Linked DNA regions of Homo sapiens: regions 2 and 3 are each linked to region 1. The links come from fine-mapping of genetic effects on gene expression. A gene starts in region 1. Each other region holds a variant in brackets. All regions are shown on one strand. Distances are from middle to middle.

Region 1 (8,189 bases):
ATTCAGTTTTCCATTCTGAAAAGCTTCCTGTGGAATAAGTGGAAAGCTGCACAAAATCTCATGGAACTTACACCATGCTTGAGTACAAAGTTCAGCATTCACAGATTTTCTAACATGAGAAATGATTTTCCCCGCTTTATTAGTGAAAGCAGTGTGCTCATGCCACTCATCCAGTTTCTTATCACTCAGTAGGTTTTTTACTTCATTTAGGGAGTTCTTCAAATCAAGAAATGCATTAAGTTCAGTGTGGTCACAGGTGAAAATCTCACTGGGATCTGGTAACTGCCACTCATTATTAAGTGGCTTGCCATAAGAAAAGTTCTTGGCAAAGAGTTCAAAAATGTCAGCAAGAATATCTGGGCTGAATGACGCGGGACTTGCTAGCTGCTGAACTGGTGTCTTTCTGCACTTACTCATTTTCAAATCAAATTAAAATCTAGGAAGAGAAAACACATAATTAAATGAATCAAATTTATTAGTGAGCGAAATCTCATGAGCAGCAAATACGATCACACTCATGACAAACTCCATAAAATGGGAAGGCTAAAGTCAGCATACTCTGTTATTTAACCAAGTAATCTGGAATAATGAAAAAGGCTTTGATATCCAAGACCTGGGTTCAAATTCCAGCTCTGCTAATTATGGCTTAATAAGCACCCTTGGGCAAATTCCATCTCTTGGATTTGGTTTCTTCTCATTAAAAAAAAAAGCCTATCATTTTTTAAGAAGAAGATAAAACATACTAGCATATAAAAAACATATAACAAAGCATAATCATCAGTGAATGACAGCTCTGATTATCATAGTAACCCATCTAACTCTTCCCCAAAGTTCTTCCCTACCAATGACTGTGACAACACCTACATGACCTCAAACAAATCCATCCTTAGAGATTCATCCCTGGACATGACCTTTGTTCAAGCTCTAACATGTGACTTTTCGTTTTTTTTTTTTTTAGTTCCCGTCATACTTTACCTCCTTCAGGGAGAGGATCATGTACCTGAACCCAGTACTGATCCTGCCACAAGCCACTTACCTCACTAGTAGGATTGTTGAATACATCCTCTGTCCAGATTTCATTCTCTAAGACAGGCACTTTGGTGGTACCAATCACCTATACAGGTCATCAACTAACGTTCATCATCATACTGCTTGTAAACTGTGCTGTACTTGAGTGGTTAGCCTTTTTCTGCTTGATGCTGAAAGTGACCAACTGTTTACCCGGTATGTCTCAAACTATAGATTCCTGGCTTTCATATGGTTCAGACAGCTCCACACTTCCACCATAACATATCATTATTTCTTCTAGCCACTAAAACTTAACACTTGGATAGCAGAATTTTATACTGAAGAAATATACATATTGAATATACAAATTACAAATAGTCACTCTACATACTCTGGCAGTCAACACTGCCAAAGAAACCAGAAACAAAGAAACCTCTTCCTTCTGAAGAGGAAAAAGGATATGAGAAGTATGGCTTAATGGCATAGTTTTGGAAAAGTTACAAATTCCAGCAGGGAGAGCAATGAATATTACATGGTACCTGTTAGTGCAATGTTAATCAATAGATGCTTTAGTTCACAAATTCTGCACTTATTTAGCATACACAATGCATTCTACAAATGATTTTCAAAAAAATCTGAATTTGTTAAATATGAAAAAATTGGCAATCAAATCATCACTCCAGAAAAGCAGATGTTCAAGGACAAAATGAGAAACAAAGGGAACTACTGCTGTAATACATACAATAATATTCAGATGATGTTTCTTTTAGCATTTACTTTGTACTGTTCTTTTAGCACACTTTTTTCATTCTTTCTTATTTTGTTTAAATTATTTGCAAGTCTACTCTACCAGTTTGTAATTTCCTTGAAGTAACAGGTGTCTTCTTAGTCATTTGTTTGCCACGGTATATTTATATTAAAAAAAAGTTTTTTTTTGAGACAGGGTCTCACTCTGCTACCCAGGCTGGAGTGCAGTGGCACAGGTCATAGCTCCCTGCAGCCTTGACCTCTTCCCAGGCTCAAAGGATCCTCCCACCTCAGCCTCCAAAGGAGTTGGGACTACAGACGTGCACCACCACACCCAGTTAGTTAAAAAAAAAATTGTGGAGATGGGGTCTTGCTCTGTTGCCCAGGCTGGTCTCAAAATCCTGGGCTCAAGCAATCCCTCCAACTCGGCCTTCCAAGGTGCTGGGATTACAGGTGTCAGCCACTATGCCTGTTTTTTGTTTGTTTCTTTTTTACTGGTAGAGCTATATTTAGACAAATTTCTAAAGGAAGACAAAACTGAGGTGTTTCCACATTCACTAAAATCTTAAAATAAGGGCATATAAAAGTTTTTTTCAACAAGCTCCTCTGTCTTAATTCGCATTGTGCTTGCTGGAAACTACAGCCATGTTTAGATCTCATCTATACTCTATTTCGGAAAAAGTCTAATTTTAATCATTAACTTCACATACTAATTAACGGCTGTAGTTAAGCTGTGAAACCTTACCTAAGCTAATAGGAAATTACCTTCACATGAGGACAACTTAAGTGATTCAGACACTCCACCGTTCTGACTATACTTTTGCTGTGTTGCCACCTAATTTTTATTACTACTCCCTTACTCACTACTCCAGCCAAACAGGCCTTTCTGCTGTTCACTGAAGACACCAAGCACATTCCAAGACAAAAGTCTTTCTGCATTGGTGGTCCCTCTGCCTGGAATGCTCTTTCCCCAGCTGTCAGCACAGCTAACTCCTTCACCTCCTTCCAATATTTGCTCAAATGTCATTTTCTCAGTGAAGCCTACCTAAGATTGCATCTTGCATTCCCCATGCCTCTTACCTCGCTGTATTTTTTTCCTATGGTACTCATGTACTTCCAACCTATAACTTCCTTCTTTTTGTTTACTGTTTATTATTTGTCTTCCCCAAACTAGAATGTAAGCTCCACAGGACAGAGATCTTTGTTTTGTTTACACATAGACCATTCCAAGAAGTTGGACATTGCCTGGTACACAGTAAGCACTCAGTATTACTGAATAAATGAGTGGATATCATACTTAGCACAAAAGGGATCTCTCTCTTCAGGTTCTGAATATGAGTCATTAATAGTGCACCTCAACTTCACTCCAGCACTTAAATGCATGACTTAAAAAAAAAAAAAAAAGCATGTGGCTTACAGCGTGTGTGGAAAAATTTTCCAGTATATGATCCTCTGAGCCTTTCATTAAACAGTCCTTTGAGCTTTGTGACATCATAATTCTGCTAAGTGGGTCGCTATTACCATTCTCATATTGCAAACTCAAGTAGGCAGTTATGTAGCCCCCGCCCAAATTAGTGAACCCAAAACAAAACCCACAAGATCTCATCAACAGTTTTTACCTCACAGCTGACACTTATAAAGGAGTTCCAAGTGCTTCCGCCAACTCCTCCTACCAGCAACTGTGAAAACAACGGCCAGTGAGTATCCAGGGCTGACTTTGGGCCGGGCACCCCATATCTCATTTCATCTAGTGAAGTAAGTCCCAAACCCCACTCCAGAGGCCCGGTCCCTGACCTGGAGGAAACTCAGTCCCAGCCCCTGGCTCACCCGCTGGGAAGTCGAAGGAGGGCCCGGAATCGTACCCAGGCCTGGATTACCTTCGCCCACGCCCACTGGGGCCCCAGTGTCTGGAGAGGCTGCACTTTACTCTCTCGAGGAAGCCATTCTGCACTTCCGCTCTCGGGGCTGCTTCCCGGGATGGTCCCTCCCTTTGGGTCCGCGGCGCCTCCAGCCACAAGGCAGGGAGATGGTGCGCCGGACTGGGGGGAAGGCTGTCCGGACCCGCCCTCGCGGCACCGGGAAGCCAGTCCCACCTCCGGGCCCCGCAGCCGCGAATGCCGGCAGACAGGGACCAGGAGGCACTCAAGTCCCACTGCGCACGCGCCCTGTAGGCCGGGCCGGAGTCACGTGCGCCAACGTTACGCACGCCGGCGACTCTCGCCTCGCCTAGGCCTCAGCTCCCTAGGTTTTGCTTCGCGGAGTACAGAAGCTGGGAGGCGCCAGCCTCCCGCCCCCGGCCACTATGGCAACGGAAGCGGCGCGCGCAGGCGGAGCATTCTTTGGCTCCGTCCCGAAGAGGGGTGAAAGGGAGAGGGACAGGGAGGCGAAGGGGAGGGGGAGGGGGAGGGAGGGAAGGGACGGGGCAAACCTGTCTGTCAGGACGTGCTGGTTCCGCTCACTGGCTGCTGGCCCCAAGGGCTTTCAGACTCTTCTGGACAGTTGTTACTTCCTGTACAGACTGGGTTGAAACTGCAGCTCAAAAGACGATAGGTTAAAAGCCAAACTAGGGAACTGCAAGATAAGATTGTTTATATATACATGACATAATATATATTAATTATGTTGCTTAATAAGCCAATAAGAAAAAGGCCAACAACCCCAGAAGGAAAATGAGCAAATATTAGAACAGGCCTCCCAAAAAACAAAAAAGTCAAACAAATAGCCACTAAGGATATACAAAACTGTTTAAACTATTATTAGACAAGAATGGAAATGAAAACAGCAAGTTTTCTTTTTACTCGGTTTAGCAAAGATGTAAAACCTTGGTAATGACCACTGTTGGTGTGACTATGGGGAAACAGGTTTACATCTGTGGATGGAAGAAAAACGTTATTAGAAACCTTACGGAAGGCAAACTTATTTATTTGTTTGTTTACTGAAACAAGGTCTTACCCTCACCCAGGCTGGTGTGCAGTGGCTCGATCTCGGCTCACTGCAGCCTCAACTTCCCCGGGCTCACGCGATCCTCCTAGAGAGATGGCATCTCCCTATCTTAGGCTGGTCTGGAACTCCTGGACTCAAGCGATCCGTTGGTCTCGGCCACCCAAAGTGCTGGGATTACAGGCATGAGCCAAGCCGCCTAGCCCAGAAGGCAAACGTTGAAAAGAGACATGCACTTTGGCTGGGCGCAGTGGCTCACGCCTGTAATCCCAGCATTTTGAGAGGCCGAGGCGAGCGGATCACGAGGTCAAGAGTCCGAGACCAGCCTGACCAACATAGTGAAACCCCGTCTCTACTAATAATGCAAAAAATTAGCCAGGCGTGGTGGCGGGCGCCTGTAATCCTAGCTACTTGGGAGGCTGAGGCAGGAGAATCGCTTGAACCCGGGAGGCGGAGGTTGGAGCGAGCCGAGATCTCACCACTGCACACCAGCCCGGGCGACAGTGCGAGACTCCGTCTCGGGAAAAAAAGAGGACATGCATTTTAACCCAGCAATTCCTCCTCCTCGCAGTTTATCCTTAGGAGATAATTAAACAGCTGGCACTCACTTTGGACAAAATGTTCATTTCAGCATCTCAATAACATAGCCAAATGGAAATACTCTAAATGTCTACTTTAAGAGAATTAATTAAATTATTACAGTACATCTATATAATGCACATATATGCATTATATGCAGCCATTAATAGGCTGTATGTGTCAACAGTATTGCATGAAAATAGAAGAATATTAGAATTATGTGTAGAGTTTTTAACCATTTATGTAAATAGATATATAGACATAAATGTAAAATTCATTTTTTACAAGTCTTCCAGAACATGGACCAATGGAGAAAAGATTATATTTTCACAAAATAGTGGTAGGTCATTTGTGTCTCTCCATGCAAAAAAAATTGTATTTGGACCCTCCTTACATCATAAACAAAAATACATTTCATTTGGATTGTCAGTCTGTATTTTAAAAGTTAATAAGAAAACATAAGAGAACATCTTTGCAACCTTGAAGTAGTCAAAAAGTTTATAACAGGACACAAAATACTAATCATAAAGGAAAAATGTATAAATTGAACTATATTAAAACTAAAAATATTTAGAGCCTGTAGTCCCAGCTCTAGGGAGGCTGAGGCAGGAGGATGGCATGAACCCAGGAGGTGGAACTTGCAGTGAACCGAGATTGCACCACTGCACTCCAGCCTGGGTGACAGAGCGAGACTCCGTCTCACAAAAAAAAAAAAAAAAAAAAAAAAAGAAAGCACGGGCTGGGTGTGGTGGCTTATGCCTGTAATCCCAGCATTCTGGGAGGCCAAGGCGGGCAGACTGCTTGAGTCCAGGAGTTTGAGACCAGCCTAGGCAACATAGTGAAACCCCGTCTCTACTGAAAAACAAAAAATTAACCTGGCATGGTGGTGTGCACCTGTAATCTCAGCTACAAGGGAGGCTGAGGTGGATCACCTGAGCCCAGGAGGTTGAGGATGCAGTGAGCTGAGATCACACCACTGCACTCTAGCCAGTACAACAGAGTGAGACCCTGTCTCAAAATAATAATAAAGTACAGGGATTTATTGCAAAGTGAATAGCATTTATACAAGTAAGTGCTATATTGTGTGGTACAAGTTAAGTGTTGTAGGAGTCTAAAGAATGAAGTTAGTAGGAAAAATATAGGAAAAGACTAGGGAAAAAGAAACTTTAATTTCTGTTCTTTTAAGGGTGAAGTTACGTGGGGAAGGGGAGTGCCAGCCTAGCTCAGGAAAATAATGAGTGAAAAAACAGGCAAGAGGACAGGTAATGTAGATTTGCAGAAAAGGGATGGAAAGTTAATACGTTTAAATGCTAAATAGGTGGCTTAGGTGCTATATATAGTGTCTTAGCTTGGGCTGTGTATTAGTCTGTTCTCATGCTGCTAATACAGACATACCTGAGACTGGGTAATTTATAAAGGAAAGAGGTTTAATGGACTCACAGTTCCACATGCCTGGGGAGGCCTCACAATCGTGGCAGAAGGCAAAGGAGAAGCAAAGGCACGTCTTACATGGCGGTAGTCAAGAGAACTTGTGCAAGGGAACTCCCCTTTATAAAACCATCAGATCTCATGAGACTTATTTACTATCATGAGAACAGCATGGGAAAAACCTGCCCCCCATAATTAAATTACCTGCCACCAGCTCTCTCCCACAACATGTGGGGATTATTACTTTAAGAGTTAAAGAAAGAGGAAAGAAATATGAAACAAGGCTTAACAGTCAAAGACAGGTTTATTTTAGAGAAAAAACCTGAGGGGGCTTCTGGCTGATTTTGGTCAGGAGCACTTTCTCTTCCCGACTAAGAGTATAAATTGGTTTTAGGGTGAGCAGGTTTATCACAAGCTTGGATGTTTCTTTGGGGGTGGGGGGAGAAGTTTATGGTGGGGTTGGAATGTTTCTATTATCTTGGCCTGACATCTTCCTGGCCAGAGGGGAGTTATCTGAGGCTAGCATCTTCCTGGCCAGAGGGGGCTTATCTTGGGGCTAGCATGTTTCTGATCAGGGAGGAGTTTGGAATGTTTCTGGTCAGAGATGTTATTTGTGGTTTATGTTCATGCTGACCTTAGCCATTAGGCTGATGCCCTTTGGATTTAGGTGGTTTTTGATTAAGGTGAATTTTTAAATGACAGTCCTTGTCCAAGATGGCGATACTCCTGCTCTGTCAATTATAATTCAAAATGAGATTTGGGTGGGGACACGGAACCAAACCATATCAGGCTGTTACAACAAATACCAGAGAGTGTGGCTTAAACATCAGAAATTTGTTTTCTCAAGTGGGAGATTAGAAGTTCGAGATTGAGGCTCTCTTACTGGCTTGCAGATGGCCAGCTTCTTGCTGTATTCTCACATGGTGGAGAGAAAGCAAGCTCTCTTGTCTCTTCTTCAAGAAGGGCACTAATCCCATCATGAGGACCACATCCCCCTGGCTTCACCTAAACCTAATTACCTCCCAAAGGCCCCATTTCCAAATACCATCACACTGGGGATTAGGGAATTTGGGAGGGTGGTGGGATTCAGTCTTTAGCAGGTATTGAGGAACCAGAGTACAGAAGACCATGGAAGGCAGACTGAGGCACCAGATCTGCTGCAATAAGAAATGGTCAAGAGGGAAAGAAATAACTAAGCTTGGTTCTTACAGAGTTAGGAACAGTCATGGCGTAGTCAAATGGAAATATCCATAGGGGAGCTGGAAATCAATGGGTGGCTAAAGTTCAGGTGAGAAAACTGAACTGAGGTAACACTCAGCCCTGTGGATTTTCAAGTACCTACTTTATTATTATTCATTATTAGCAATCATTATGATACTTAATTTAGTAGTGGAATCACTACCCAAAATTGTTAAAGCACTAGCCCTGGGGACTCTCACTTTTCATAGCTTGCCTAACACTGTGGGAGGCTGGGATCAACATGACTT
Region 2 (8,189 bases), 22 kb before region 1:
ATCCACCCCTTATTTAGCATATGATCAAGAAATAAACATAAAAATGCCAACCCGCTTTTTATGGAGCAGCCATTCTTTTGCTTACTTCCCTAATAAACTTGCTTTCACTTTACTCTATGGACTCCCCCAGAACTCTTTATTGCAAAAGATCCAAGAACCCTTTCTTGGGAGTCTAGATTGGGACTGCTTTCCAGTAAGAAATACACCCCATAGCTTAGGGGCTTAAGAAATGAAGCTGCTTTGGAAACCTGAAAATTATTTAGATTTCACAAATGGCTCATGATGCCACGGAGAGTTATTTCCCTTTTGGCATCCTGGTTTCTCTAGTCAGTGAAAATCCTACACTTACAAAGTAGAAAGTTCAAAACAGTTTCTGATCTTTTAAACACACGTACTATATAAGCACAAAGATAGTTACAACCCCAACTAAAAACAATCATTTAGAACTGAATCTCAAATTCATATGTTTGTAGTTCATAATCTATCTGTAGTTGACCAAGAAGGTAAAATAAATTATTGGGTAGATGTAAGCTAAGATCAGTCATTGCCCTTAGTCTAGAACTTCTGATTAGATTGGTAACTCCCATGGCACTCCCCCAAGGCTCTAAGTGGTCCTGAGTAGCTTTAGAATCTGAATAAATCACACATACTAGGGATCCATCGAGACCACTAGAAACTCAATTTATTTGTGACCTGAGGCAGGATTTTATTGCTTCTCAGATTAACAGTTAAAAACGTTTTGCTTTTCTGCCTCAGGGGTATTCGTTTGATGTATGAGGCAGGGAGATTATTAAATCTTTGCTACCTTCCAAAGATGTAAATTAAACCACAGCACCTCCTTAGCCACTTTCCCTGTATGAACTGCTTATTTATTAACTTGTCACTCTTGCATGCTCATCAAAACAACCACACCTATGATTAATTATTCCTGTTTATTTAAGGGTGCTTGTCATTCTAACTTTTTGCGGACAGGATATTTACAAAGTCTCCTGATTTCTTTGCAGAACTGTGGCATGAAGACTTTTAAAGGACTAATCATTTCTATGGATATATTTTAAAAGAACAGTGGCATGAATGTAACTATATCTTGTTCTATTCATTTTAAATAAAGCTGCCCTTCATTTTGGCTTCCCTTGCCTGGTCATGAACATCATATTGGCTGATTTTGTCCATCTGGACATCTCCAAAAGACTTTGAAGAGGTTCGACATTAAATGGTCCAACATAAACTCTAAAGTTATTTTTTCAATTTTGTCACTCACAATTCAATTCAATGTAGACAGTATTTATTTATCTTCTATGTGGCAAGCAGCAAATATGGATTTGTTCATTCATTCCTTCATACAATATTTATTTAATGTATTTTATCTGCCAGTAATGGCAGTAGGCATATTGTTCACTGTTCAAAACAGTGAACAGTCCTTTCCTCCACTGGATTTACAGCCTTGTTACTACCCTTCCCAAGGCATTTGTCTCTACATATTATGAGCAGGAGATAATAAAACGACAATGAGAACCTGGATAAAAGGGAAGAAAAGCACAGTGTTCTCCCTCTGAAGTTTGCACAGAATACACAGTAAATTGAGTCAGGTTTAAGAAGACACCTGCAAGGCTCTTCCCCCATCCTGGTCCAGAGTGGGTCTGCAGGACTGAACTGCATTGAAACTATGGCATTTCACCTCTTTCTGTTCTCCTTGACCTGCCATATCATAGATCATCTGGTTTGCTGAATAATCACTGAACCAAAAAGTTTTCAAATGAATTTTGGAGGCACAGCTGCCTAGCCTCTGCCACAAGAAAAAAATCACCTTACTAGTTTAAATGGTTGAATAATCATCTTATTTTTTTTTTTAAGATATAGGTTCCTGATCATATCCTTGTCTCTCTTTAAAAGTTTTTATTTTCTTGGGAGGCCAAGGGAGGAGGATCACTTGAGGCCAGAAGTTCAAGACCAGCCTGGTCAACATATCAAGATCCCATAACTACGAAATGTAAAAAATTAGCCAGGTATGGCAGTGAACATCTGTAGTCCTAGCTACTCAGGAGGCTAAAGCAGGAGGATCGCATGAGCCCAGGAGTTCAATGCTGCAGTGAGCTGTGATCGTGCCACTGCACTCCAGCCAGGGCGATAGAGTGAGACTTTGTCTCAAAACAAAAAGTTTTATTATGGAAATTGTCAAACAGAAAACAATTAAGATAATAAAATAATGAATCCCCAAATACCTATCACCTAGCTTCAGTGATTATCAAAATTTTGCTGTTCTTGTCTTTACCTACCACCTTTCTCTCTCCCTTCACTTTTCTTTTTGTGTTTGAGTATTTTAAAATAAACCTCTAGCTGGACATGGTGACTCACGCCTGTAATCCCAAAACTTTGGGAGGCTGAGGGGGGTGGATCACCTGAGGTCGGTACTTTGAGACCAGCCTGACCAAAATGAAGAAACCCCGTCTCTATTAAAAATACAAAATTAGCCAGGCGTGGTGGCGCATGCCTGTAATCCCAGCTACTCGGGAGGCTGAGGCAGGAGAATTGCCTGAAGCCAGGAGGCAGAGCTTGCAGTGAGCCAAGATCGCGCCATTGCACTCCAGTCTGGGCAACAAAAGTGAAACTCCGTCTCAAAAAAACAAACAAAAAGAAACCTCTGCTATCACACCATTAAACCTCCAAATCCATTAGAACGTATCTCTAACAAAAAATAAGATTTTAAAAACATAACTATAATATCATTGCAATATCTAACAAAATAATAACATTACTTTAATACCTTGTAATCCCTAGCCCAAGTTCAAATGCTCCTGATTCTCTAAAAAAAAATCCTTTTGGATTGAAATAGGATCCAAACAAGGTCTACACATTAGATTTGGCTGATATGTCTTTCACTTACACCTGTTCTCTCCATGTCCTTTTGAATATCACCAAAATGATCTTCAATATTTGATTTTTATCCAGGATAACTAAATCTGTCCAAACCTAACATATGCTGCTGGTGAAACCTCATTATGTAATATTTTTCAAGGACAAACTACCAAAAGAAAAGGTGATCATACAAGTTATCATGCAAACAGAGAAACTGAGTGAAAAGTGAGTGCTGTTAATAATTATACTGGTGTAAACCAGGACGAACAGTCACCCTATGAATAGAAGATATTAGGGGTAAAAAGGAGGATCAGGTTTCTGGCTTCAACTCTGGAGCTGGGGAGCTGGAAAAGAACTAGAAAGAATACCTCTCCCACCCTTAAAATTAATAAAAAAAATAAGTTGAACGAACTTCAAGTTAACAACTTTTCTTGGATCCATCAAAGAGTTGAAGAAACAACTAGTTTATTTGAAGAAGCACCAACTAGCCCAAAATCAAAGTAAAGAGAAGTGCCTACAGGAAAAGTCAGATGCAAGCATTTGTTTACGTGGGGCAGTTGAACACCCAGAAGAACTGTGAAGAAACTGGTGGAATCTGAGTATTGGCAGGTGACAGAATATGGCCTCAGATACAAAGGGAGTTTACACCACTCACAGGCTTCTCTCTACAGGCCCTAGTGGGTGCTCATAAACAATGATGGCAGCAGTGCTGAGAAGACATGCTTAGGGGAGGGGAGAAGCAGTTGTTGCAGGAAGGGCGTGGATACCTGCCCAGATCCTTCTTCCCTATCTCCCCTGTTAAAACAAAAGCAATACAAGAAAACCCAACAACTTCACCTAGAGTGGGGAATAAGAGCAACAAGCACTATTGCCCTTAGAGCACTCCTGAATACCAACTGCAGCTTTGGGAAGGAAATTGTTAAAAAAAAAAAAATCCTCCACACCTCAGGGAGGAGCAGGAGTATATGCTGGGCTCAGAACTATCACTGGGGAGAAACAGAAGCATGAAAAAGGTCACACTCCTGAGACCCAGAGACACAGTATCCACTCAACACTGAGGCTTAGTTAGAACGACAGGGAACACTTCCTTCACCTGCCACCACCAGAGCAAGAAGCATCACACAGCAACAGCAGACGACTGCTGAGAGGGCCCAGAGAGAAGCAAGGACATGGAGAGAAACTCTCTGGGGTCACTGCATAAGGAGAAAGTGTAAGGCTAAGGGTAGGCCCAACATTGAGAAAAGTCTATTCAGTGGGTAAACCAGCCCTGCTCCTAATACAACATTTTATTAGAAGAATTTGAAGTCTCTGGTACACTGAGGATAGCCCTATGAACAACAAACCCCCAAAGCCACCTCAACGCCTGTCTAGGTTGATTCACATTCCACACTAAAAATCTAGAAAAAGAGGCCAGGCGCGGTGGCTCACGCCTGTAATCCTAGCACTTTGGGAGGCCAAGGTGGGTGGATAGCCTGAGGTCAGGAGTTCAAGACCAGCCTGGCCAACATAGTGAAACCCTGTCTCTACTAAAAAATATATAAAAAATTAGCTGGGCGTGGTCGTGGGCACCTGTAATCCCAGCTACTAGGGAGGCTGAGGCAGAAGAATCGCTTGAACCTAGGAGGCAACGGTTGCAGTGAGCCAAGATCGTGCCATTTCACTCCAGCCTGGGCAACAAGAGTGAAACTCCATCTCAAAAAAAAAAAATCTAGAAAAGGAAAAAATGTACCCCATTTGCAGGCATAAAAACTATTTACCTCAATCAGTGCTGTCCAGTGTTCAATAAAAAAGTAAATAAAGTACGTGGTATATAAAACAAAAACGAAAATAAAAAGCCCCACAATGCCAAGAGACAAAGCAATCAACGGAACCAGACTCATATATGACACAGATATCGGAACTATTAGATAAGGAATTTAAAATAGCTATGACAAATATATTGAAGTGTCCAGTGAAAGAACTGGACAACA[C/T]GCATTGTCAGATGGGTAATTTCAGTAGAGATAATGAGAACTGTAAGAAAAAAATCTAATGACGCTGTTAAAAGTGAAAAACGCAGTAAAAGATCAAGACCAAGTGACATCAAGACTGTCACTGACAGGCTCATCAGTAGACTTGACAGTGCTAAGGGGAGAGTTGGTGAACTTGAAATCATCCAACCTGAAAGAGAATAAAGAGTAAAAAATAAAAACAGCACCAAGCATCCAGAAACTATAGGACAATATAAAATGATCTAACAGATGTATAGCTAGAATTCCAGAAGGAAAAAAGAGACAGAAATGAGGTAGCATAAATATAAGAAGGGATAATGCCTGAGAATTTCCAACATTAATGACATACATTGAACTACAGATCCAAAACAACAACCAAGATAAATACCAAGCCAGAGATAGACATATCATATTCAGGTTCTGAAAACACAAAACAAAGTCTTGAAGGAAACCAGCAGGGGTAAAAAAGACACATTAACACAGAGAAATAAACAGCCCATCTTATTAGAAAGCATGCAAGTCGGAAGACAATAGAGTAACATTTTCAAAGGACTAAAAGAAAAAATAGTGTCAATACAGAATTCCCTACCTGGTGAAAATATCTTTCAAAAATAAAGGATAAAAAGACTTTCTTAGAAAAAAAAACTAATTAAATTAACTGTCATCAGTACTAAACCATAAAAATTTTAAAGAATATTCTTCAGAAAAGAGAAATTTGATACCAGATACATACATTTAGATGAAGAAACAAATAATGCTAGACATGGCATAAATAAAAATAACAATTTTGCTTTTATCAGTTTTAATTGCTCTGAAAAGGAACAATTTAAGCAAAAAAAGTGGAATTATATTGTGCCTTGTAGCATACATAGAAGTAACATAGGAGACAAAAATAGCACAAAGAATGAGACAGACTGATTGGAAACATGAGTATAAGGTCCTCATAGCACACATAGGAGTATAATATTACTTGAGGGTAGACTTTGATTAATGTGTTATATTGTAACTACTAAAAACTTTTTAAGAGCTATAGGTAGTAAGTCAATACTATAGATAAATAGATGAAATAATAAAAACTGCTCACTTAACCCAAAAAAGGCAGAAAAAAATGAAATATAAAGAATTTATAGAAAACAGGTAGCAAGACAGATTTTAATCCAATATCAGTATTCACATTAAATGCAAGCAGTTAAAACATCAATTGAAAGGAAGATTTTCAGATTAGATTAAAAAGGAACCGTATGCTGTCTACAAGAAACCCACTTTAAATATTTTGAAAATGAAAACTAAACACATGAGATGCCGCTAAAACCATGCTTAGAAGAAAATTCATTGCATACAGTGCTTATATTTAAAAAGAAGAAAGATCTCAAATCACTCACCTAAGCTTCGACCTAAGAAACTAGACAAAGAAGAGCAAATAAAATCCAAAACAAGCAGAAAGGAGATTTTAAAATACAGCAGAAATCAATAAAATTGGGACAAAGTACACAAAAATAAATAAAACCAAAACCTGTGTTTTTAAAGAGATCAATAAAGTTGATAAAAACCCTAGCCAGATGGAGAAGGAGGAGGAGGAGGAAGAGGAGGAGGAGGAAGGGAGGGAGGGGGAGAAAGAAAGAGGAAAAAGAAAGAGACAGAGAGAGAGAAAGGAAGGAAGGAAGGAAAGAAAGAGGGAGGGAGGGAGGGACGGAAAGAAAGGAAAGAAAGGGAGGGAGGGAGGAAGGAAGGAAGGAAAAAAAGGAAGGAAGGAAGGAGAAAAAGGAGAAGGAGAAAACTGAAATTACGAATTTCAGGAGTTAAAAAGAGGATGTCACTACAGATGCCACAGATATTAATAAGATAAAAGAATAGTATGAAAGACTCAATGCCCATAAATGTAAAAACTTGCATGATATGGAGCAATTCCCTGAATGATATCAACTACCAAAACTCACTTAACAAGTCAACCAGGACAGTTGTATATCGATTAAAGAAATGAAATTTGTAGTTAAAAACCTTCTAACAAACAGAAATTCCAGTCCCAGATGGTTTCACTAGAGAATTATACCAAACACTTAAGAAAGAAAAATCAATTCTACAGAATTTTTTCCAGAAAAATAGAAGAAAAGAGAACACTTCCCAGAAAATAGAAGAAAAGAGAACACTTCCCAAAGCATTTTATGAGGCCAGCATTACTCTGATGCCAAAACCAGACATTACAAGAAAAGAAAACTGCAGACCAATATTTATTATGAACATAGATATCAAAATTCTCCAAGAAATTTATCAAATCAAATCCAGAAATATATGAAAGAGATAAGCCAAGTGGAGTTTATCCCAGGAATACAAAGCAGATTCAACATTCAAAAATTAGCCAATACAGCTGGGTGCAGTGGCCTCACGCTTGTAATCCCAGTGCTTTGGGAAGCCAACAGGGAGGATGGTTTGAGCCCAGGAGTTCAAGACCAGCCTGGACAACATAGTGAGACCCTCATCTCTACCAAAAAAAAGGTTGTTTTTTAATCAGCCAATATAATTCACCATCTTAACAGTCTAAAGAAGAAAAACCACATGGTCACCTCTACAGTTACAGAAAAGGCATTTGACAAAATTCAACATCCATTCATGTGTTTTCTTTTAATCTCAACAAAATAGGAATAGAAGGAAACTTTCTTAATAGGATGAAGGACTTTTACTGAAAAACCCTACATCTAATACCATAATTATAAAAGACCATTTCTTCCTAAGATTAGGACTAAGGCAAGGAAGTACTGCCTCACAGCACTCCTACTCAACATCATAGTGGAAGTCCTAGCTAGAGCAAAAAGGCAAGAAAATGAAATAAAAAGCAGAGAGAGTGGAATAGAAGAAATAATAAGTACACAAATAAACGACTCAAACTAAGAAAAACAAAACCAGATTCTGTGTTACAGAATGGTGATGGTTGGGGAAGGTGAATGGGGCTAGGGCTTAGGTGATCTGTGAAAGTCTTTCTGAGAAGATGATATTTGAGATGAAATTTTAAGGATAGAGTAAAGCCAGCCATGAAAAAAAAATTACACACACACACAATGAATTTGTATGTTATGATCTATCCAGGATTTCTCACATCCTAAACTTACAGCTTCAGAACTCACTCCTCACTGCCTCTCTCTAAGTTCTCCAATTGCAAAAGACTCTGATCAGCTGAAATCATCTTTTGGTCTTACATTCCAGAGAGCTGACCAAACTTGGTCCAATCAACTGATAAGGGAGAGGGTGGGCTGGAAGGTAAGAAGGTCACAAGGTTTAAGCAACAGGAATTAGGCAGGCAAATCTTAAAAGGTGATGGGGAGCAGTTTAGCAATTATTGACACTTCTCTG
Region 3 (8,189 bases), 59 kb after region 1:
CGTGCCAGGTGTAGAATATCATCCGGCCCTTTAACAAAAAAGTTTGCCAACCCTGCCTTAGATCAGATCCCCAGAAGCAGAGCTTGAGATGAGGATTTGGGTATAAACGACTTACCAAGCAAGTGCGACCAGGAGACGCCAAGGAGAAAGCAAGGGAGGCAGGACAGTGAAAGAAAAGAGGCCACCAAAGGTGTGATATCAGGCAAAGTCCTGCCCCAGCCTGCTCCTGTGGGAGACCTTCTGGGTCCCGTGCAGGTGAAGTGACTCAGGCAGGCCCTGAAGAGGCAGCAGGTGTGAGCTGGGAGGAGCAAAAGCCACGGAAGCTCAGTGGGGAGGCCCAGAACGTGTAACCGGGATTGCAGGGGATCCGGGCAGAACTCTGATGGGCTGGCTTCAGCTGTTAATCACTCCTCCAATTTATGACGCTTTTACAGGGACAAGGTCTTGGGCCAACATACATTCCCTTGTTTACTCCTTGCCACAGCCTTAGGGGTGGGAAGTATCTGAGGCCCACTTTGCAGCTGGGAATGAAATGAGATCACCCAGACAAGTACTCAGCCCAGCACCAACCCCATAGAAAGCACTCACTAAGAGGAAGCTGGATGTGTCTGGAAGCTGGTTGTGTACTGAGTTTGGGGTCACAGGGGTCATTGGGGTATCTAGCATGTAACTAGCAGGAACTTCTAACAGAGCCCTCGTCAGTCATCCTATCGGGGAGGTCAGAGAAGGAGGCTCTGGGGAATCTTGAAGGAGGGGTGGGAGTTGCCAAGTTGGGGAAAGAGATTTTTCCAACACAGGTCACAGCAACACAAAAGCTAGGCGGTGGGAAACAATGGGCACATTCCGGCAGCCTCGAGGAGTTCCGCGGAGGTGGAGTGAAGACTGAGAGGGGTGGTAGGGGGAGATGAGGCCGGGAGGAGGAGAGTACACCCTCAGGGATGGAGAGCCAACAAAGATTCTAAACGAGGAGTTCTGCAGTGAGACTGGCATTTTGGAACAATCGTCCTGGTTTTGGTTGAGAGCACAACTTAGAGAACAGAGGCTAGAGGTGGCAGGCTGGAGTGACAGCCTACTGCAGCTGTCCAGCCAATTAAGCCCTGTAGGAAGAATGGCTGATGCCGCAGTCTATGTGATGCTGAACTGCGGTAGCCAGGCTGACCTGGCCCCAATCCCGGGCTGTGACTGACCTTCAGATGCAGGCAGCAGAGAGAAGAGGACAAAAGTGCACCGCTGGGGAAAGGCAAGCAGCTGGCACCCAGGGCACCAAAGACCCGCACAGTGAGCATCAAGGCCAGCAAGGGCACAAAGCCAGCTGTCACCTGTCCTCTGGGCCAAGCCAAGGGGGGCTGGCCTCCTGGCCACCTCCTTGGGGGAGCAGTACCCCCATTGTCATGACTTGTTCACAGATTCCCAGACCTCCCAGTGCTATCAAGGGAGGTTTGTACTAGAGGTTGATTTATTTGTTATTTTTTTAATTGTGCATTTTTATGGATTTAGGGATACAAGTGAAATTGTGTTAATGGAAATATTGCATAGTGGTAAAGTTTGCCTTTTTGTGTACTCATCACTCTATTTGCTTTTTTTCGATTTTTGATTCTTTTTTTTTAGAGACAGGGTCTCATTCTGTTGCCCAGGTTGGAGTGCAGTGGTGCAATCATAGCTCACTGCAGCCTCGAACCCCTGGGCTCAAGCGATCCTCTGCCTTAGCCTCCTGAGTGACTGCGACTATGGGTGTGCACCATCACGCCTAGTTCATTTAAAAAAATTTTTGTGTAAAGTTGGAGTCTTGCTATGTTGCCTAGGCTGGTCTTTAACTCCTGCCCTCAAGGGATGCTCTTGCCTCGGCCTTCCAAAGAGCTGAGATTACGGACACGAGCTCCCATGCCCAGCCCATAGAAGCTTAGAGTTCACATCAAGAAGGAAGGCACCTTTTCTAACCTGCCCTTAGAGGTTCTGGGAGTCAATAATGTGGCTTGCATACTACCCATTCCCAGATGGTTCATCCCCACAGAATCTACTTCTCTATTTCCTCTGGTCCCGGGCCCTGAAGCATCCAAGCTTCCACCCTTTATAATTACAAATCACTCTCCCTCTGTGTGTGTGTGTGTTGCACATGTGCATGCACACACGTACAATCAGATACATTCCACAGTTCCTCAAATGCCACCACTGAAAGATTTATTCCTATAGTCCAACCTCCTGGGACAAGGAGGGTGCAATACATGAAGTCACCAACACCTTAGTGCGAATTTATTAATCAGATACTTCCCTCTGCATCAGCCAGATGTTAAGAAAATACCAATGATTCGAAGAGAAAGCTTACTGAAAAGGTATGGAATTTTTGGCAGGGGTGGGGAGAGAGGGGACCGTAGGCAGGAGGGATGTGACTTTCCTTTCCACCCAATCTTGGTCAGCCCAATGCTCTTAGTCAGGAGTCAGCAAACTTCATCTGAAAATGGCCAGATAGTAAATGCTTTCAGCTTTGCAAGCCATAGAGTTTGTTGCAACCACTCAGCCTGCCATTGTAGCACAAAAGTGACCAGAAACAATAAGCAAAGGGATGAGGGCAGCTGTGTTCCAAAACAACTTTATTTATGGACACTGCAATTTGGATTTCATATAATGTTCACAAAGTATTATTCCTCTTTTGATTTTTTCCAGCCATTTACAAATGCAAAAGCCATTCTTAGCTTGCAGACCACACACACACATACACACACACACACACACACACACACACGAGGTGGCTGGATCTGCCTGTGAGCCCTGACCCCTTTCCCATCTTGTTGAGATGCCCTCTCCCTAAGGACAAGCCGTCGGTCTTTCTTTGCTGGGTGCCATCCTTGCCTTCCCTTCTCCAGGCCTAGAGGGAAAAAAAGTGGCTCCTTGTTCTGTGTGCTTTGTCCACAATCCCTGGGGATCTGCTTTCAAGTGTGGAGGTGATGACAGGGTGACAAATGGCTGGCGTGCAGGTAAGCCACCGGCGGTGGGCTGCCGCAGAACAGTGGCCGTAGGGTTCACACCAGTTGACTGAGAAGTGAGCCCAGGTGGGCCCCATCTGCCTGCCACTCCCCAGCCCACATCCCATGCATCAGGCCTCATCAGGTCCATCTGCTACACTTCTGGGACACTCTTCAGGCACCTCTCACAAATCCAAAGACTATTTGTTGTCATTATTACCACCTGACTTTACACATATCATTCCCATTAATAAAAATACAATACTCACTTCTTACTGAGTACTTAGTCTGTGCCAGGCGAGAGCTAAGCTCTCTGGCTCGTATTCACTAAGTGGGCCAGGCTCCGTGTGAAGTGCTTTGCACGCAACCAGTGCGTTCAGGCACCTACGGCTTCAGTGCTATTATTAACTTCATTTCATGGATGAGAAAACGGAGGCCAGAGAAGCTCACAGCACCCAAGGTCACAGAGCTGGGCGGGTCTGTGTGTGACTCTAAAGCCAGGTTCTTTGTCACCGGGCACCCCCGCCTCTCCCTGTCTGACAGCCATTCTGCAAGACTGTATTAGGATTCCAGGTCTTTGGATGCAGAAATAGAAACTCCGAGAAGTCAAATTGTTAGTCCAAGTTCATACAGTGGACAAAGGGTGGTGTGAGAATGCTTTGTTGGCATGCCACTGATGTGAAGAGATGTAGGGGCACCTGCCTGTATGTGAAAATGCATGTTTCTGGAAGCTTCAGAAACTTGGGTTCTAAATGAAGGGTTAGGGCTTCAACAAGTGGTGAGAGACAAATTTTAGCCTGAGAGAATGTCTTGGGTCTGTTGGAAAAGTCTTGTGCAGTTGTGTTATCATAGAAGGGCTCTAAAGTATGTAAAGAGACATAGGAGAAGGCTGGGCAAGGAAGAAGTAGAGGTGCAGGTTCTGCTGAAGTCTGGCCCCAGCCGGATCCCATGGGAAGCTCTGGGGCATGAAGGGTACTGCAGGGTTTCCCCACCTCAAGGCAAGGCGCTCAGCCTCTATACCTCTTATACATCAGTAATTGGCTATGGATTGTCCCATGGTTGGGGTGGGAGGAGCACCTCTGTGCAAGGTGACAATTCTCCGGAGAATGGTCCAGGTCTGAGCCTTGGCACCCAACACCCACAGCAGCCGGGGAATGGTGCACGATTGTCAGAGGGGATCTTGGCAGGTATCATTGGCATCTCCTGTGAGTGGGAGACCCAGGAGACCCAGGTGTCACTAACTGGCTCCGCAGTCCCTCGAAAATCACTATGCCTTTCTCCTTCCTACCCTCCACCTCTGTCTTCCTCTCTTCCCTCTTGATCTTCTACCTGGTGGGCTGAGCCGGGCCTAGGCTTCTGGCTCTCGTATCAGACCATCGGCAATGACGGCCAATCTGCAGACTCCAGGAAGCACCCCAGTTTGGCTTCTTCCGAGCTCGGCCTGCTCACCACTTGCCCCCTCCTGTGGCCTGCCTGTCAGGGGATTCCCACTGACGTGCTCGGGAAGGCAGCTCAGGGAGCAGCTATGAGGCAGGCAGCTCCTCCTGACCAGACGGTGCCGAGGCCCCCAGCAGGGCAAGCAGCTGCCCTCCGGACGGCAGCCCAAGTGGGCTTGCTGCCAGGCACTTGCTTAACAGGAGCTGAGCTGTCCCGGTGCGTGCAAGGGGTCATTTCTAGAGCTTCCAGAAGGGTCTCGACTCTATACACAGAAACATCCTTTTCCACTCCTGTGATCTTCATTCAGTCTTTCATTCATTCAACAATTATCTCGGCTGGGCACGGTGGCTCATGCCTGTAATCCCAGCACTTTGAGAGGCCAAGGCGGGCGGATCACAAGGTCAAGAGATCAAGACCATCCTGGCCAACATGGTGAAACCCCGTCCCTACTAAAAGTACAAAAAATTAGCTGGACGTGGTGGCACAAACCTGTAGTC[C/T]CAGCTACTTGGGAGGCTGAGGCAGGAGGATCACTTGAACCCAGGAGGCAGAGGTTGCAGTGAGCCAAGATCGCACCACTGCACTCCAGCCTGGCGACAACGCAAGACTCCATCTCAAAAAAACAAAACAAAACAAAAAACAAACAAAAACAAAACAAAACAATTATCCCTTGAGTGCATTTGGGCCATGAATGGTGCTGCAAGCTAAGAAGAAAAGTGATGAGCAAAATAGACAAGGTAGACAAGGTCCTACCTACCTCCATTCTAGCTGGGGAGACAAATAAGACTGGGCACAGTAGGGTCACAGATTCACTCCGTTAGACGTGCAAAGAAAATATCGTTCCTTTGTTTTACTGTAATTGATCTGATCTTCCTCAAGGGAAGGGCAGATGGGGTGAAGAAATATCTTAAACTTGCCCATTTATGGTTCTAGCCAACATGTCCATCTTAGAAGGAACTACTTTCTCTTTTAGTGAGACTCATGGATCTGAAACTTGAAGAGCAAAGCTACGGACACCTTCAACCTTGGAGCCATTGCCTCTGCCCTGAGTAGCTACTGGGCATGGGAGCAGTGGGAAATGGGCTTGGAGATAGCACCTGAGGACCCCCGAGGTAAAACCAGCCAAGTGTGTAAGGCTAGGCCAGGTGCAGTTTCAACACCCAGGGGTTCTCAAATTTACCTCTCTAGCCCAGACCTCTCCTCCAAACTCTGGCTCCATAAATCCCCCTGCCTGGTCTATGCATTCCCTTAGATGATGTTGTAGTCAGCTCAGACTTCTATAACAAATATACCATAGACTGGGTAGCTCAAACAACACAAACTTATTTCCCCCAGTTTTGGAGGCTGGGAAGTCCAATTTCAAGATGCCAGCAGATCCAGTGTCTGGTGAATATCCACTTCCTAGTTTGCAGATGTATCTTCATATATCTTCATGTATCTTCATATGGCAGAGGGCACAGAAAGAGATTCTGTGTCTCTTCCTTTTTTTTTTTTTTTTTTTTTGAGACGGGATCTAGCTCTGTCGCCAGGTTTGAGGGCAGTGGCATGATCTCAGCTCACTGCAACCTCCGCCTCCCAGCTTCAAGCGATTCACCTGCCTCAGCCTCCTGAGTAGCTGGGACTACAGGCGTGCGCCAACAAGCCCAGCTAATTTTTGTATTTTTAGTAGAGATGGGATTTCACCATGTTGGCCAGGCTGGTCTTGAACTCCTGATCTTGTGATCCGCCCACCTCGGCCTCCCAAAGTGCTGGGATTACAGGCGTGAGCCACCACGCCCTGCCTTTTCCTCTTTTTATAAGGGCATTAAGCCTATTCATGAGGGCTCCACCCTCATAATCTAATCATGCCCCAAAGACCCCACTCTGAATACCATCGTATCAGGGGTTAGGCTTTCAACATCTGAATTTTGAAGGGATACAAACATTTGTCCACAGTAGATTGATTCAAAGACAACTCAAACTCAACACATCCAACAAATGCAGGGTGTATCCTTCTCAAATCTAGTCCTCTGCCAGCATCGCCCATCTCAGTCAGTGTCTGCTTTTCTCCCAGGTGCCAATACCAACTGGGAATCGCCCTCTCCCTCACTGTCCATATCCAACTCATGGCCAAATCCTATTTTCTGCCTACAAAGTTCCTGATCACTTTGCTCCATGACCACTGCCCCTCTGGAGGCCCAGGTACGGCCGTGTTTCCCAGACAGTCTCGGGAGTCACCTGATAGGTTTCCCTGTGTCCACTTAGACTCCTCGCTAGTCACCCCCTACACAGGAGCCAGAGGGAGACCATAATCCTGGTTATGTTTGTTGCTGGCAGAAAACCCTTTGATAGCTCCCAGTGCTCTAGCGTCTGGCCCTGCCAACCTCTCCAGGGTCACCTCCACCATGCACCCACTCGTCCCACTGATCTCCCATCCCTCTGGCTTTCTTACAGCTCTGCCAGCACGGAGCCTTGGTGCATGGGGTTTAAATCCAGGAATGCTCACCTCCTCCCTCCTCCTGGTTAGTTCACTCTCAGGATGGCTTCCTACTCATGCTAGATACGGTCGCTCCCTGATATTCACTCTGTTTTCACTTATATGTGTGATTGTGTGGTTTGATCAATGTCTGTCTCCCTCACTGGACTTTAAACTCCTGAAAGGAGGAATCATTTCTGTTTTGCTAGTACAGTGCCTGGCACAAAGTAGCTGGCTAATCAATATTTTTTACACAGCATGAATGAATAAAATTTGTAATGAATTCATGAGTGAATGAAATGCAGCCCTTATCTTTGAACATCTCATTCTCACATTCCTGCTGCATTCTGGGGAATCCTGGAAGTGGGGCACTGTCCCTCTAGGGACATTTTTCCCATCCTTAGTAAAGGAGTCCAAATTCCTGGCCACCTGGAAGTCCTGTTCTGGCAGGAAATAGAGCAAATTTGTTTGCAAATCAAGCCCAGGGCTCCCTGCCAGGCCCCCAGGCAGAGCCAAGCCGGCCTCACACGGACGCCCTGTGGATTTGCACTCATGCACGCTACATTTCCTTGTGTCCTCCTTGCCTGCACCTTTCTCTTCGTCCTCCACCTCCTTTCCTTAGAAATCCCATCTCACTATATGGAGTGATATGATCAACTTCCAGCTCAGCTCAGAGAAGATGAAGGGACTCTTCTAGATTAGCCAAGCACATTGGTGGATCTGGAACCCAGTTATTCCGAGAGCCCACTCGACAAAAAAGAGAACAAAAACAGCCAACACCATCGACCCTGTGCCAATCACGGTGCTAGGTAATTTGCATAGATTATTTTATGGAATCATTACAACAATCCTTCTACACAGGTTTCATTAGGATTAGAGAGAACCTAGAATTCATTTACTAGATGAGGGCCAGTAAACTATGTCCCACAGGCCAAATTAGGTCCACCAAGTTCTTCTTCTTCTTCTTCTTATTATTATTATTATTACTACTACTACTAAAAGAAGTATTATTGGAACAGAGTCATATTGCTCTGTTTACATATTATCTATAGCTGCTTTTGCACTATAATACCAGGGTTGAGTAGTTGAGACAGAGAACCTACGGCCCACGAAGCAGCCCCCCTCAAAAAAAATTCCTATTTAGCCCATTACAAAAAAAAAGTTTGCCAACTCCTGTTTTAGATGACACCCTTCCCCCAGACTCTCCCTTTTATATTTGAATTCGTTTGTCCGAATGTTTTTTTTTCACCCAATGTTAAAGCAAACATGTTCCGCAGCTTGTTTGAATTTTCTGTGTTGAGCACCCAACACTAGAGGTGTCAGTTACTTTCACCATGCCC

Evidence for each region. PIP is the estimated chance that this variant, and not a neighbour inherited with it, causes the effect.
Region 2: its variant is fine-mapped to the expression of CMTR2 in whole blood (INTERVAL, PIP above 0.99).
Region 3: its variant is fine-mapped to the expression of CMTR2 in subcutaneous fat (GTEx, PIP above 0.99).

The regions. Positions count from the first base shown.
Region 1 is chr16:71,285,504-71,293,692 of GRCh38, forward strand. CMTR2 (cap methyltransferase 2) reads right to left here and starts at 3,899. Exons shown (of 3, transcript NM_018348.6): 1 at 3,633-3,899; 2 at 3,375-3,434; 3 at 1-436. The coding sequence starts at 417. LOC102723786 (a long non-coding RNA gene) reads left to right here and starts at 3,297. Exons shown (of 4, transcript XR_933707.3): 1 at 3,297-3,452. RefSeq lists silencers at 3,652-4,021, 4,102-4,171.
Region 2 is chr16:71,263,837-71,272,025 of GRCh38, forward strand. No RefSeq gene overlaps it. Among named protein-coding and RNA genes, the nearest start is that of CMTR2, 21 kb to the right of the region's middle. The variant C/T (reference allele first, on the strand shown) is at 4,827.
Region 3 is chr16:71,344,379-71,352,567 of GRCh38, forward strand. No RefSeq gene overlaps it. Among named protein-coding and RNA genes, the nearest start is that of CALB2, 10 kb to the right of the region's middle. The variant C/T (reference allele first, on the strand shown) is at 4,895.